Linked DNA regions of Homo sapiens. The protein of the gene in region 2 interacts with the protein of the main gene of each other region in a pairwise test. Each region holds a gene or a part of one and is shown on either strand. Other genes may lie near its edges. The genes, in order: SLC41A2 and HHLA2.

What was found.
Region 1: the proteins of HHLA2 (region 2) and SLC41A2 interact in binary tests that used the Homo sapiens proteins (3 or more experiments, as listed by UniProt).

What each region holds. Positions count from the first base shown.
Region 1 is NC_000012.12:104,885,291-104,893,624, reverse strand, and holds part of SLC41A2 (solute carrier family 41 member 2), read left to right. Parts: intron 1-4,447; coding exon 4,448-4,592; intron 4,593-7,185; coding exon 7,186-7,332; intron 7,333-8,334. UniProt on the Homo sapiens protein: Acts as a plasma-membrane magnesium transporter. Can also mediate the transport of other divalent metal cations in an order of Ba(2+) > Ni(2+) > Co(2+) > Fe(2+) > Mn(2+).
Region 2 is NC_000003.12:108,355,436-108,363,769, reverse strand, and holds part of HHLA2 (HERV-H LTR-associating protein 2 isoform a precursor), read right to left. Parts: intron 5,927-8,334; coding exon 5,609-5,926; intron 1,429-5,608; coding exon 1,324-1,428; intron 1-1,323. UniProt on the Homo sapiens protein: Through interaction with TMIGD2, costimulates T-cells in the context of TCR-mediated activation. Enhances T-cell proliferation and cytokine production via an AKT-dependent signaling cascade.

The DNA.
Region 1 (8,334 bases), on a different chromosome or scaffold from region 2:
CATCTGTTGATGGTCACTTAGTTTGCTTCCAAATCTTGGCCATTGTGAATAGTGCTGCAACAAACATAGAAGTGCAGATATCTCTTCAACATACTGATTTCCTTTATTTGGGATTATATACTCAGCAGTAGGATTTTTGGATCATATGGTAGCTGTATTTTTAGTTTTTTGAGGAACTTCCGAACTGTTCCCCATAGTGCTTGTACTAATTTACATTCCCACCAACAGTGTACGAGGGTTCCCTTTTCTCCACATCCTCACCAGCATTTGTTATTGCCTGTCCTTTGGATAAAAGCCATTTTAACTGGGGTGAGATGATATCTCATTGTAGTTTTGATTTGCATTTCTCTGATGATCAGTGATGTTGAGCACCTTTTCATATGACTGACTACCATTTGTATGTCTTCTTTTGAGAAATGCCTATTCAGATCTTTTGCCTGTTTTAAAATCAGATTATTGGATTTTTTTTCCTATAGATTTGTTTAAGCTCCTTATATATTCTGGTTATGAATCCTTTGCCAGATGGGTAGTTTGCAAATATTTTCTCCCATTCTGTGGGTTGTCTCTTTACTTTGTTGATTGTTTCCTTTGCTGTGCAGAAAGTTTTAAACTTGATATTATCCCATTTGTTCATTTTTGTTTTGGTTGCCTGTGCTTGTGGGATATTACTCAATAAATTTTTGCCCATACCAATGTCCTGGAGAGTGCCCCTAATGTTTTTGTGTAGTAGTTTTATAGTTTGAGGTCTTAGATTCAAGTCTTTAATCCATTTTGATTTGATTTTTGTAGATGGTGAGAGATAGGGGTCTCATTTCTTCTGCATGTAGATGTCCAATTTTCTTAGCACCACTTGTTAAAAAGACTGTCTTTTCCTCAGTGTATATTCTTGGCACTTTTGGCAAAAATGAGTTCACTGTAGATATATGGATTTGTTTCTGGTTTCTCTATTCTCTTCCATTGGTTTGTGTCTGTTTTTATGCCAGTACTGTCTTTTGGTTACTATAGCTCTGTAGCATAATTTGAAGTCAGGTAATGTGATTCCTCCAGTTTTGTTCTTTTTGCTTAGGATAGTTTTGACTATTCTGAGTCTTTTTGTGATCCCACATAAATGTTAAGATTTTTTTTTTCTATTTCTGTGAAGAATGTCATTGGCATTTTGATAGGGATTACATTGAATCTGTAGATTGCTTTGGGTTATATGGACATTTTAACAATATTGATTATTCTAATCCATGAACATAGAATATCTTTACACTTTTTGGTGTCCTCTTCAATTTCTTGCATCAATATTTTATTTTATTTTATTTTATTTTATTTTATTTTTTTTTTGAGATGAGGTCTTGTTCTGTTGCCCAGGCTACCAGGCTAGAGTGCAATGGCGTGATCTCGGCTCACTACAGCCTCCGCCTCCTGAGTTCAAGCAATTCTCCCACCTCAGCTGGGATTACTGGGGTGTGCCACCATGCCCAGCTAATTTTTGCATTTTTAGTAGAGATGGGGTTTCACCATGTTAGCCAGGCTGGTCTCAAGCTCCTGACCTCAGGTGATCCACCTGCCTCAGCCTCCCGAAGTACTGGGATTACAGGTGTGAGCCACTGCTCCCGGCCTGTTTTATAGTTTTTATTATAGAGATCTTTCATGTCTTTGGTTATTTCTAGGTCTATCTTATTTTACTTGTAGCTATTGTAAATGGGATTACTTTCTTGATTTCTTTTTCAGATTATTCACTGTTGGCATATAGAAATGCTACTGCTTCTTGTGTGTTGATTTTGTATCCTACAATTTTACTGAATTTATCAGTTCTGATAGTTTTTTGGTGGAGTCTTTAGGTTTTTCCAAATATAAGATTATGTCATCTGCAAATAAGGATAATTTGACTTCTTTCTTTCCAATTTAGATGCCCTTCATTTCTTTCTCTTATCTGATTGCTTTAGCTAGGACTTCTAGTAGTATGTTAAAAAAACAGTGGTGAAAGTCTCTTTCCTCTTTTAAATATCATTATTGTATTAGAGATGTCTAAGATCTTTTTCAGCTTGAAATTGTAGAAATCTATGCAGGGGTAATAATCAAAACATTTAACAACCAGTAGAGTTGTTAAATATATATATAAATAATATATAAAAATAATATAAATAATATATAAAATTTGAAAATATATTCCATTTATTTTTAAATACCCTGAACTCTTACAAAGTAATATGAGTTGTAGTATAAATTATTTGTCAAATTATCCTAATAATTTCCATCTCAGCTTTTCATTTTTCCTCCCATTCTTTGTCTTCACTTTTCCTTTATCATCCTCTCTCCCTGCAACTGTCAGTCAAGATAGGAGTCAGACATGGCTAGGGATTCACTGATTCTAGTTGCCATAGCCCAAAGCCTGTGTCTTTATGTGCCTTACTCCACCAAGAAAGTGTGAAGAACAGGGAACCCCAACCAGGCCCCTCAGGACACACCTGGTACCAGCCAGTGAGGCAGCAATTGGTTGAAGCCCAGTCACAAGTAGACAAAAGTGAGAAGAAAAGAAGATGGAGCGGTGGGGGTAATGGTTGGGGGAGAGGGTTTTTTCTTCCTGAGGCTTCTTCTGCTAACACTTGTGAAAGAGTAGATGATGAGTGTGGGAGGGGAGTAGGATGGGCTGGCACAAGCCTCCTCTGCCTGGAGACTGGCCATGGAGGGTAGAAAGAGAGAAGGGTAGAAAGCACAGACGAGGCCCACACTCCCACTTGCTCAGGGTTGTGCTCTTCTCACTGTTAAATGGAGCCCCAGGCAGATCGCCTGTCACAGATTTCTTCACGATTGTACAGAATGGTCTTCTGGACCAAATACATACATAAGTAGTCAGATAAAGCAAAGTCTCCAGTCCCACATGAGGAACTGTTGCCTCACCAGGAGGGACGTGTCCTGTACCAAACATCTCTTCAGGCCTATGGCCCCTGTTAACCTTCACATCTACTACTTAAACCCAGACTTTGCTTTCTCTTGGGTACAATTAGTCATTTTTCAGTTAGTCATTATTTTGCATATTTCCAGAATAGGACTTCCTCATCTCAGCTGTGTGCTTTTATTTTCTCAGAAATTGACAGATTTATATATACATATATACACACCATGATGTCTGCAGTAGGTTCTCTAGCTCTGTGTTCCAATGTCAAGCCAGACAGGACTTGGAATCATAGTGCTAGAATTTATATTATAAATTAATTTTACTGCTTTAAAGTGTAATTACATCATTTACTAACCAGAATGAAAATCCTGAAATATTTTAACTGCTACACTCATCATGGTGCTTATTGGTTTGAATCTCAGCTCTGTATCTGTGGATGACATCCACAGAAGCTGTAATATTAATACAAGATCATGGGGCTGGAGTCCAGGATATATGGTCTCTTTAGTCCTGGCTCTTCTGTTGATTTACTATATGACTACTTCAGGAATTTTTTACTTGGAGCCCTCGATTCCAGCACGTGGATTGGCTTCAGAGAGTCCATGAACATCAAGAAATTCTACTCAAAATATTGAGTGCCTCTGTGTTTGCCTAGAGAAAGAGAACTCTATTCTATAGAGTTTTTACCAGATTGTCAAAGGAGTCCATGACACAAACTCAGCTAAGAGTGAGTGCAATAGATGATTCTTGTAGGGTTTCTTTTAGTTCTGACATCCTATTAATCTGAGGCTGAGTTAGCGGTGAGTGTTATTTCTTAGTGGCAGGTTTTTTTTATTCTTGCTTTGTGTCAGCACTGTGGAAAGCAGTTTATATATTTATATAATTAATTTAAATCACAAAGTTTGAGGTTATTGTGGTCTTACTGATTAGGAACTGAAATTTTCATAGCACTAATCACAATTGTGCTTATTTGTGAGGTTATTTTCAAATGTTTGTCTCTCCCACTGACCAAGAGCTCTGTGAGGGCAGGGAATAATCTACGTTGACCACTGCTGTAGCCCAACACAAAACATAGCACATTATACATAGTAGAATCTAAATAAATACTCCTTGAATGAATGAGTTTAAATAATTTGCTACAAGATTAAGTGCTAGAACCAGGAGTCAAACTCCTATCTTTCTATTATAAAATCCAATCTCTTGCCAGCACTACCTCTAGAGTCAGACTTCAGATGTGTGGATTGGGTACTTCTCAGTCTGAAGGTGGCATTTTCTTAGGTGATCTATTAGTTATACCATCAGCATCACTTGGGGTGCTTGTTAAAAACAGATTCCTGGACTCCGTTCCATACTTGTCACCAGATCATCAGAGCAGTTTGAGAACCCACCATCTTAGGGAATATTAAAACCAAAATATAGTAACTACTCTAAAAGGTAATGTAGCTCAATTATTACATGCAATACTTTTTTTGACTTTTTGTAGTAATATTTACATAATCAAAATGTTTAAATGTGTTTTTAAAGTGAATAATTCAGTTGGATTTATGAAAAAAATTTTAGGTTCAGGCAACAGTAGTGGGTTTTCTAGCAGCTGTGGCAGCAATTATATTGGGCTGGATTCCAGAAGGAAAATATTACCTTGATCATTCCATACTTCTGTGCTCTAGCAGTGTGGCAACTGCCTTCATTGCATCTCTTCTGCAGGGTAAGTGAATTTATAAATGTCTACTCTATAGCCTTTTACATTTAAATGGTTTATTTCTTAAGATGACTATTTTTATTTAAATGATACCTGTTATGAAAACAACAGAAAAAACATATCTACAAACTTAAAAAATGCCTTAGTTATTCCAGATATATTTACATTTCATTATTTATAAAACTTAGTGTAGAACAGGCTTTTCTGAGGTTGTCTCCTGGCCTTGGATACTCCGTTATAGTTCCTCAAAAAGATCAGGAAAATCGCCTAGACATTCATTTGTTTCTGTAAGTTAAATAAATTGGGAAACTCCTTTCTGGACATCATGCAGGGGATTTACTAGCTTGTCACTTGAGTAACAAGTGTTCCAGGAATTCTGGGTTTCAAAAGTCATCCTCTGTTGAAATTTTTTTGTTTCAGATTTCAAGAAAAATTTCTTCCCTGTTTCTGTGGCAATACAAATATAACCTTATACTTAAGATAGCATATTGTTGGCTATAGAATTTAAAGAGCCAGAAGGTTTTAAAAATTAACTACTTTAGAACTTTTATTTGGGTTATTTTTCTTTATATTTATTCGTATGAACTTTACACTAGAGAATTAGCTTATTGTGGAATCACAATCATAAAGACTTTGTTCTTTTTATTTTATAATTGCCATTTTCTTGCCCTTATATCACCAGCAAAGTTTAAAGTGGATTATTGTCATGTTAGGTGATCATACAATGCAGCTAACTTTTTTGGCTAGGTTCTGGGAATTTAGGGAATCTTATTAAAATTATAACTCGATTTCCAAAATATTTTCAAGCATTTTGTTTTAGTAGTTTAATTGTATCGGGGTAGTTTCTTGTCTTCATAAAGAATTACTATAGTTGAATGGAGTTAACATTGACCAAAGCAGAGTGAAGTTAAGCTATTGGAAAATTAAATTGTTGGTACAAAAATAATTATGCCATCAGCATGCTATTTTTTTAGGCTCATTTGCTTCTTTTTTCTTTCTGATTTTATTTCATTTAGAAAGTGTCATTTAAAATTTTTCAGTCTAACAAGTATTTGAAAGCTTTTCAAAACTATCCAAAATTCAGAATTTTAAAAAGTATTTGTTTAAAGCTTCTGACTTTGAATAATGTGTGTTCTAATTTTATGATAACTTGACCTTTATAAGCACTTTAGTATATGTAAAGTAGAAACTCTTAGCCATATTTGTAGGTGAGAAAACTTAGGTAAGGTGACTTGTCCAATCTCATCAACTTGTTACCAGCTGAATCAGAACTAAAACACGTTTCCTAACTCTTAGCTCTTTCCACTGGACTATGATACATACAAAATATTTGTTTTCAGTTGAAAAGATATAGATGGTACTATGTGTAGGAGAACTTCCCATATACATCTTCAAATGTGCTGATTTTGGAAAAAGATTCTAAGCGATTACATCTTGCCTGATTATTGCATAATGTATTTTTTTTAAAAAGTTTTCTGCTATAGCTTTTTTTCTTTTTCAATGATATTATGGGAAAGGTAAGTCTAGTAATTTAAAAAGCCTCCAGAATACTAAAATATAAGGCACTGTTTGATGCAAGACAAAAATTCTGCTTATTAAAATTTTGGCTTTAATAGGTAGAGTAAAAAACACTGGGCTAGAGTCACAAGCTATGTGACTTTAGGCAAGAATTTAAGCCCTACTCTACAGGACCTCAGTTTTATTATCTATAAAGTGAGTATGCTGGAACAAAAACATTTAGAGTCATTTTAACTCTAAAAGTGCTGTGAGATTCTGTTACTGTTTTTCTCCATAGCCATATTTAGGCTTTCATATTGATTTGTGGTTAGCACATTTAAAGTTTTCTCTTTACTACATCCTCTTAATGAGTATCTTGGTGTGACAAAATCTACACAATTTAGAGTGGATATAAATGTTAATAGTTTTATCCCATTTGTATAATTTAAGAAAATTAGGATGTAAAAGTACAAGTACACAGTTAAATTTTCATCTTCTATTCTCTCGTAGGTTTATAGACAGAAACTTCAGGTTTAAAGAATATCTTTTACAAAGACTGTTTCTTGTATTCTGGCCTTCAGTGTTTTAAAATTTAATTATGTCCTGCTGCTTAATACTTCAACGTCTTTAAGTAATAAAATGAAATAAGCATTTCTAGCTGCCATATGTAAACAAATCTGGTTTTGTTGGCCTTCTTCCCAGTTGTTGTACATATACATATGACTCACCTTTTTTTTTGATGTTTTCATACTTTATTTGAGGGTTAAAATTAAAACCTTTGGATTCAATACACACAAATACATTATATCTAAGATATACATGTCACTAAATCTGAAATTTTAGCTTTACCATAATTTTAGTAGCTTTCAGGCCTCTAAATACAATGCTGAACTTCTTAAATTTTCTATGATCCCCACTTGGAGTTTGTTGAAAGGCATTTTGCCAAAGCGTTAGAGTAAATGTTTTGTTTGCTTTAGTCAGCTTATCTAAGCAGTCTAACTGGAATTGATATGCTGTTTTTCTATCCTACACATTTTGGTATTTGGGGGATTGATTTTCTTTAAATCATAGCCTAAAAAGTAATGAACATTCTTTCTTCTAGGAATAATAATGGTTGGGGTTATCGTTGGTTCAAAGAAGACTGGTATAAATCCTGATAATGTTGCTACACCCATTGCTGCTAGTTTTGGCGACCTTATAACTCTTGCCATATTGGCTTGGATAAGTCAGGGCTTATACTCCTGTCTTGGTAAGTTGATTTAAAACTAAATATTGTGTGTTGTCTCAAGTCTCTTTAAATAAATATTGTTGCAGCAATGCCATGAATCCATGGTAGCCTTCATTTGCATTAGAACTGCTGTTGAGACTGATTAGGATAACTATCATTTGTTTTATACCTACTATGTGTTATGATTCCCACTTTCTTTTTTCTCGTAGAGTTTAAAACTCTGTAAAATAAGGATTATCATCTCTAATTTTAGATGAGAAAAGCAAGGATCATAGAAGTTATGTATGTTACCCAAGTTTATATAACTACTAGTAAAAAAGTTGAACACAGGCTTATCATATTTTGTGATTTCTGTCCTTTCCTGTAAGTGTACAGCAGCTAGGAGTCAACCTGCAGTGTTCTCTGTATAGAACCATCTCAGAATATAAGCTTATAAGTGGTACTTAAAATTTACCAATGGAATGTTTTTCCCCATCAGAAACCCACACCAATAAGTAGCTTCATGGCAGTTAACAAAAGGGAAAAAAAAATCACCACAAAAATTAGACTGAATGCTGTATAAAGTTGGAGCCATATATGTAATTCCTGATAAATAGTGATAGAGTATTTATGGAATCTAATGAGTTGTTTTAATGCAAATTTGTGTTCTGGAAATGGTAAATACATATGATTTGTGAGTGTTGATGACATGCTAAAAGTTCATTGTGGTTTTATTATTTTTAGATGCCAAATTAAGGAAAACAGAAACTTACAGTAATACAAGAAAAAAACATGAGTATATAAGCCAAGCCAGAGGCAAACATTTATTCACAAATCCTCACATATGTTCATGGATTCTATACAGATTTATGGTGTACTTTAAAATAAATCTAAAGCATGTTTCGTTTTAAGAAGTAAGGGTCTCAGATATATGTTCTTGAAATAAAGAAAGGGCTTTAACCAACCAAAGGCAATAATTTTCTGTGACTTTTGGAGACATCAAGGAAGCTTCACTTAGCATATAAAATTGCCTTAAGTTATTTA
Region 2 (8,334 bases):
TTCCACTAAAGAAACTAAACTATCATTCTTGAGTAGGATGTAGCACCACCTCCCATAATTTGAACCTAATCCAATCACAAATATCAGTATATTAGGTCAACGGTTGATCTTCGTGGACAGGCTAGACTGCCTGTGGTCTTACTCCATCTGGCCAGCCAAGGGACAGGAACTATCCTGCTTATTAGTACGAATGATCACAGGGCTAGAATTGGTGAAATGCTTGCTCTCCATTGCCCCTAAAACTGTATCTTCAATAATAGTTTCTGCTATAACCCTAATCTCCTAACTTCAGCAGGGGCAATAGCCAAATATCAACCAGAAGGACAGATAAAAGAGACATAGGATCTATCTCAAGTTCCCAGGACACCCAGAGCCTTCTCAGGGGGATAATGGAATAAGGGAGGGCTTCTGGGGGCCTCAACCTGCCTCTACCATTAGCTGGCTTGGTGATATTAAATGATCCACCTAAATCTGTTTCACATGCCTACTTGGCACTTAAGCTAACTTCCTGGATTCCTGTTTCCTGATCTGTAAAATGTGGAGATCAACTAGATCTAAGTTTTGCCCAGATGCTCTCTAGCTCAAAATTCTGGTACTAAAAGCAAAGTACTTTAGGAAAGTATTCCCTAAAAGTACTTCCCATGATCATGGCATCTTAAGATATTTTAAATTACTGGTAAGATTTTTTGCCTAAAATTTAGAAAAAGATTAATTGAACAACAATTAAAATGAAATGACCCATAAGAAAAGAACAATGCAGTTTCAATCAGAGCACCAACCTTGACTAAACTCAGAGCAAGGGAGAACAGGCAGAGCCCAGGGGCTTAAGGAGGTATCTGGCTTCCTTCTGAGGTGTGAGGGTAAGGAAGAACTCATGGTCCTATCACTCCAAAGGCAACATCTTAAAGCTTTGGCTTTTTTCTTTCCAGTTACTTTTCAATGCAGGATGATTAAGTCATCCTGGTTATCATTTTAATACTAGATTAAAATTTTAAAAAGTAAAGTATGATCTTTAATTAATTTCCCAATTATTTATTGAAAATAGTAGGAAACCTAAAGGCAATAGCAGTGTGCTGCAGTGAATATGCTTGTATATAGTTTGGTGTACCTCTGCTCATTTAATGTGAGATAAATTCCTAGAAGTAGAATGGTTAGGTGGAAATGTAGGAGCATTTTAAAAGATTTTGGGTGAATTTTGTGAATGACATTCCAGAAAATTCAGATCAATTACATGCCCAGTAGCTGTTTGGGCATGTATTTCCATGTTATCTTTAATATACGTGATGTGGAACACGTGGGGCAGAGCCCAAATTCTTCTATTACCTCTGCAACATTTTACGCTCCAAATCAGCAGAAAAGCTGCCAAAATCGCAGAGGGCACCAAAATCCATAAGCCTTTGTTATGGGAAGCTGTTTCTTGGCTCGGTTCTAAAAAAAAAAAGGAGAAACAAAGTCTGTGAACTGGAAGAAAAATTACCAGATAAGAAATGTGTGGGTGGGTAAGGGTGGAGTATGTTTACTATTTTAAAAACTAGTTATTTCTGCATTACAGGTAGGAGGCTGAATTCATATGAAAACACTTTGCATAATAAAAACGTCCTTTAGGATAAAGCCAAGAGCCCAGACTGGACAGGAGAGTTTGTCTTGAGCATAAATATCTCCTAGTCTCAGTGTATCTATTGTGGGAAACCTACAGATACCATAATATTATTGGAGATTGGTGGAGGTGGGGGAGCTGGGAGAAAAGTCTGAAAACTGGAGAGGTAATACATCTATTATGCATTTTCAGTTTCTATTGCTTTATACTGTAATAAGAAACAACACATTTTTATAAAGGAATAATTATGTCCATAAATTAGCCTCAGCCCAGTGTTCACCTTGGAGGATGAAGTAAGAGTGCAGTCTGCCATTGGCCTAGAGAAGACAGGGTCCTAAGGGAACAGTGGTAAGTTCAGAGGTGATAAAAGGAGATGAGTAGAAGCCCTGGTCTTGAGTTAGAGGTGGCAGGTGACCACAGAGATAATAGGCACAGTAGTCCCCCGCCTTATCCCTGGGGGATACATTCCAAGTCCCCCAAGTGGATGCCTGAAACCTTAGTACTGAACGCTATGCATACTATACACTAATTTCTTTTTCCATCTTCACAGTTTTATAGGTAGAAGATTCTTTCTTACTGTAGATCTTAGCAACCTCGACATAGGCTCTTTTTTCCTCTTGAGAGCTTTCCCTTAAAGGAAGCACTTCACGGCTTCTTTTTGGTGTATCTGAACTGCCAGCATCACTATTCTTGTGCTTTGAGGCCATTCTTAAATAAAATAAGGGTTACTTGATCACAAGCACTGCGATATCATGACAGTAGATCTGATTACCAGGAGGGCTAACAGGCGGGTAGCATCCACGGTGTGATATGCTGGACAAAGGGAGGATTCACCTTCAAGGCAGGATGGAGCGGGATGACATGCAATTTCATCATGCTACTCAGAATGGCACACAATTTAAAACATTATTTCTGGAATTTTCCTTTTAAAAATTTCAGACAGTGGTTGACTTTGTGTAACAAACTGCAGAAAAGGAGGACCTGCTGATAGTGTTTGGAGCTCCTCAGAAATAACTGGAGGAGCCTAAACTTTCTCCAGCATCTTGGTCAGGACTAGAATTGTTGAAATTAGTATTAATGGAAATGGGGACTCCAGAGACCCTGGGTTACCAAAGTCAGAACCCTGCTAACCTTATGGTCTATGTTCTGCTAAAACGAGGGCAGCAAGCATTAGAGCACAAAGGTCAATTCAGGGGGAAAATGTTTGTGGCTATCCTTTAGAATGAATACCTCTTTTTACATAACAAATGTAATTTTCTATGAACATACTATAGTGTTTTACAACTAATAAAATATTAATCTCTCCACCTATTTGTGTCATTCTGAAATTCCACGCAGGAGTCCGCTTTATCCCTGGTTTAACTTTCTGAGGTTTTAGTTACCCATGGTCAACTGTAGTCCAAACATAACCAAATGGAAAATTCCAGGAATAAATAATTCTTAAGTTTTAAATTGTGTGCCATTCTGAGTAGCATGAAGAAATATCGTGTCACGCCACTGCATCCCACCTGGGACGTGACTGCGCCCTTTGTCCGGCATATCCACGTTGTACACACTACCCCCATGAATCATTTACTAGCCATCTCAGTTATCAGACTGACTGTCATGGTATAACAATGCTTGTGTTCAAGTAACCCTTATTTTCTTTAAGAATGGTCCCAAAGCACAAGAGTAGTGATGCTGGCAATTTGGATATACCAAAAAGAAGCCATAAAGTGCTTCTTTGAACTAAAACAATTAAAGCCCTTGACTTATGAAAAATCATATATTGAGGTTGCTGAGATCTATGGTGAAAATGAATCTTCTATCTGTAAAATTGTGAAGAAAGAAAGAAGAAAATTTGTGTTAGTTTTGCAGTCACATCTCAAACTACAACAGTTATGGCCACAGTGTGTTGTATATGCTGAGTTAAGATGGAAATGGCATTAAATTTGAGGGTGGAAGACATAACAGAAATGTGTTCTGGTTGATGATATGTTGCACTGGAAAGCTTTGGGCTTATATGAAGACTTCAGCAAGAGATCCCTTGAAACAGGCCATTTATTGCAAGTAGAGGATAGAGGATGGCTACACAGATTTAGAAATCAGCTTGGACTGAAAAATATAAAAATTACTGGAGAGGCTGTGTCTGCTGATGAAGAAGCTACAGCCACATTTCCATCTAAAGCAAATCTTTAATTGCAATGAAAGCAAGCTCTGCTGGAAGAAGATGCCCAATAGAACCTGTATTCATAGAAGTGTGAATGAGGCACCAAGGCATAAACATGGAAGGACAGATTAATCCTCGTACCATGTGGGAATGCATATATAGGGTTTAGTACTGTCCATAGTTTCAGGCATCCACTGGGGGTCTTGGAACATATCCCCCAAGGAAAGGGGGGACTACTGTACCTATATAAAGGAGAGATTAAGTAGGAATGTTAGGTTGACTTTCTACAGGGTTTTCATATGCATTTTTCTTCCTCCTAAAGGAAATCCTACAAGGTATAGCTACTTCTCACTGTACTCGTGACCCTCAGGTTCCCCCATCTGTAAGGATATTTGCCCAAGGTCACATATTGATTCAGCAGCAGAACTTAGCAAGGATTATTTAATTCCATTCAGCTTGGTGCAACCTTAATTGAGCAGATCTAGATTCGAGGAATCATAAGTACCCCCCATCTTGTTGTAGCACCTCCTGGGAAAGGCAACAAATGGAAAAGTCATCCTTGAAAGGATGATATTTAAGGTACCAAGACTGTTTGCCCTGTTCCCTGGCCTGCTGGGGTGGCTCCTGCCAAGTCCTCTTCCTCGTGGGGAAGGGTGAGCACACCCTCCCCCAGCCCCACCTGGCCAACATTTATTTGAGAATGAGAGGTTCTGAAAATACTCTTTTGTCAGAGATGGAATGGTCCTGATGTTTCACTTTGTGTGAACTGAAAATTAGATCTCTGGGTGGGAAGACGGGCCATATGTAGTCTTTAGGACATTTCTTCTTGACTATTTTTTTTTTTACACTCCAAAATTAATCCAACATGAGGCAACATTTTTAAAAATAGATTGCAGGCTTAACTGTATTTTACATAAAACTGACACTTTTATTTTTGGAGAAAAATAGGAGCTTCAAATGCAGCCCCAGTTTTTCATTCTCTACTCTCAAAGTGGCAGCTCTACAAAGGGAGTGTTATTACTCAATGTCCAGAAGCTTCCAAGTATTTGAAGATCACATAACCTAAAGGACAACTCTGTGCTCTTGTCTCCAAATCTCACTACGTAGAATCACCAAAACTTCAAATGTTATTCCTCCTAATTTTCACAATTGAAATGATAGAAATATTTCTAAAACATAAGTTCCACTGGTTCAAATACCTTTATTGAAGGACAGAAAGAGCTGCCATGGTCTGCCATGATGTGAAGTTGATAGTTTAAGGGTGGGACCATCCAGCTCACCTAGAAGGTCAGCTTCATGAGTATATATTCCATGACTTGATGGTTAGTTGACTAGAAATATTTTAGATAATGGTTTTTGGCAGTGAACTATCAACAGAGGTAAAAATGAACTGAACTAGGAATATATACTTGGTGCTTCAAATATTGTGTGGTGACTATTTCCAAGTTCATAGACACTGTCATGATTTCCCAGCATTCTTCAGGACCCCGATTGTAACTTCCTAATGTGTCTCTAGCCTTGAATCCCCAAACCCTAGGCCTAAGGTATATATTAGGCACAGCAGTGAGCAGAAATGGAAGATGCTCAGCGCATGGAGTCATCAAAATGTGTTTCCTCCTCATTTCTGAAGCCCCAAAATCCTGAAAGGAAATCTGTGGGAGTAATTTTTTTTTTCAAAACAGGACTTTTGTGTGGTTGAAGGAGGGAGGGTAATCGACATCCTGACCAGAAATATCCCTGTGGATTATATTTTGAGAGGGTATCAATGTATTCTTGAAAAGTCAACCTAATTTTCTCTTTGATATTCACAAACCTCTAATGCTACAGCCAAAACCCATTATCCAAACCTACTTGCAACTTACCTACATGCACTGTGTGGATGGTAAGTAAAGTATATTCATCCGAAGAAATATTGCATAAATATTCCCCACTGTCTGAAAGATTAAGATCCATCAAATTCATAGAGAAGTCACTCTGGTTTATCAGCTCTTTGTTCCATGAGAATCGGGATTCATTGATAATTGTATTTTGTGAGGAGCTCAGATAGTAAGCCAGGACAGAGAAAGTCCCACTTTTCATTCTGGACCAAGTAACTTTGAAGTCTTGGTTTGGTGAAAAATAATCATTTACAGGTTGACATGAGAGTGAAACGTGTTCACTTTGCATTTTATGAAGGCCATCTAACAACACAATAGAAAAGAAAACATCAATGAAGATAAACATTTCAAAAGAATTCTCTAAGTTACACTTAGAAAGCAGAGAACAAAGGCACTAATACTGATATATTTGGAAATAACTTTTTGGAAAGTAATTATATTTGTACTGTGGTTTCTTAAAAGACAAGTTTTACTACCACTATTTTAAAGTTTCCCACCAAGGTTAGTTTAGACCTTCAAGGAGGGCTAAGCCAGGGCCAGCTAGAGGGGTGATATACTTGTTTTAACTCTTAGAACCTGACAGTAAGCACTCAGGAATGTTGCTACCAGTTACTAGCCTATTAAACTCAATGTTCTCCTTCTCTTGGCCCCTCTAATGCTGGTGGTCCCCAGAACACCCCTTTTGGTACCCTACCTACTCCCTAGTGGTCTCTAACTTTTATGGCCTCACTACTTCTTAATCTCTTTTTCTAGACAAAATCTCTTTTTCTTCATATAAGAATATTTCCAGCTGTGTGCAGGCAACCCCCACTGGACTGAGCTCTTTTAAAGAGAGACTGCTGAATTTTCTTGGCTTGCCCCTCCAGACCCAGCTCCATCTTGTCCTTCCCGTTCTGTAGTGTTGTAGGCTGACCTCTATGGACTGTCATGGACTGTTCCCCCTGGCTCTAGACTCACCTGGCTTCCAGTCTACCTGCAGGAGAGTGATGCCAAAGTAAGCCCTCCAAAAGGCAAATCCAGGGCCTCTCTGATGGTTCAAATCCCTCTTCTGATCTATCCTACCTCCAAGACTCAACAAGCTCCTTAGCAACGTGTAAAAGGTCTTTCATCTGTTTTTGGCCTCCCTCTCCAGGTTCATCTCTTGATCCATTGATTCCACAAATCCAGGCAATTTTACTTTTCTGTGCTTTTTACCTGGAATATTCTTCTTCTCCTGGAATGTCCTACTACTCTTCTAAAATTCTACCCTTATGCAACTTTCTTAAGCACATATTCTGTGACAACCCCATTCATGTCCAACCACAGAGAATAGAATTAATCACTCCCTTTGTAAGCTATGTTCCTAGTTTAATTTTTATATTTGTACTAGATGCTGTGGATCCAGAAATCAGTAGAGACCATGTTCTTAAGTTCACAGTCTGTGAGCAACAAAACTTGGCACGTAATAGCTTTTCAATGAGACCAAACAGTACTGAGCCTAAAGAACTGTTCATGCTTCAAGACACTCAATTCTAAATGAACATGAGAAATTAGGATTTTCCAAAGGCAATATTTATAATATTAACATTTGCAACCCTTTCCCATGTTTCCATTGCTGCCTGACTGATGGAGAATGAACATTGGGTACTCATGCCTTTAACACTGGACTCATGTAAATGTGGTGAATCACCCACAATTTCAGTATATTTTTGGTGAGCATTTTGAGAATATGAGATGCTAGGAAAGAGAAGACTGAAAAAAAAAGATAACCTCCATTTTCCCCCTATAAGGGAGACTGACAGAAAATTTTTGCTTTGTTACTAATAAAATGAAAAACAGGCTGGGCACGGTGGCTCACGCCTGTAATCCTAGCACTTTGGGAGGCCGATATGGGTGGATCACGAGGTCAGAAGTTCGAGACCAGCCTGACCAACATGGTGAAACCCTGTCTCTACTAAAAAAATACAAAAATTAGCCACATGTGGTGGCATGTGCCTGTAATCCCAGCTACTCAGGAGGCTGAGACAGGAGAATCACTTGAAACTGGGAGGTGGAGGTTGCATTGAGCTGAGATCATGCCACTGTACTCCAGCCTGGGCGACAGAGGGAGACTCCATCTCAAAAAAAAAAAAAAAAAAGGAAAACAAATTTTCTTGGACTTGGATATGGAGATAGCAAATTACTTTTTATTAAACAGGTTTTGGATATAGAGATTGATCAGAGTTTGGATCTGTTCAAATAAATGAGAGGAACGAGCGCTAAAAACTGACCATGTTGTGATAGAGGTGTTGGATAAAGATTGATGGGCTAATACTATGTAAAGAAACTAAAAAGAAGCAATAATACTCATTAATATTTTGTTTAATTGTAAGATTGGAAGTTGTGATCTGCTGAAAGACAAGTATTCTTTCTCCTTTGATCTTTTAAAGAGCAATGCTGGTAGAAAATCCTGTTTGAAGGATGAGCCATTGACAAATACATTAATATTCAAGAATAGATTTGCTTCTTTCCACTTCATGAATGTTTTCACTCAACTCATAAATACATAGCAAGGTAAGAATTACTTCTATTTTATCAATGAGGTACTAATGCTCAAAAGTAAGAATGATTGCTTAATGTAATACAGCCAGAAGAACCAGCCCTAGGGCTTCGGTCTTGGTCTTCTAACCGCTGCAGATGGATTTGCTTTCTTTTCTTTCATCTTCCTTTCTTTTTTTGCAAATCAGTCCCCA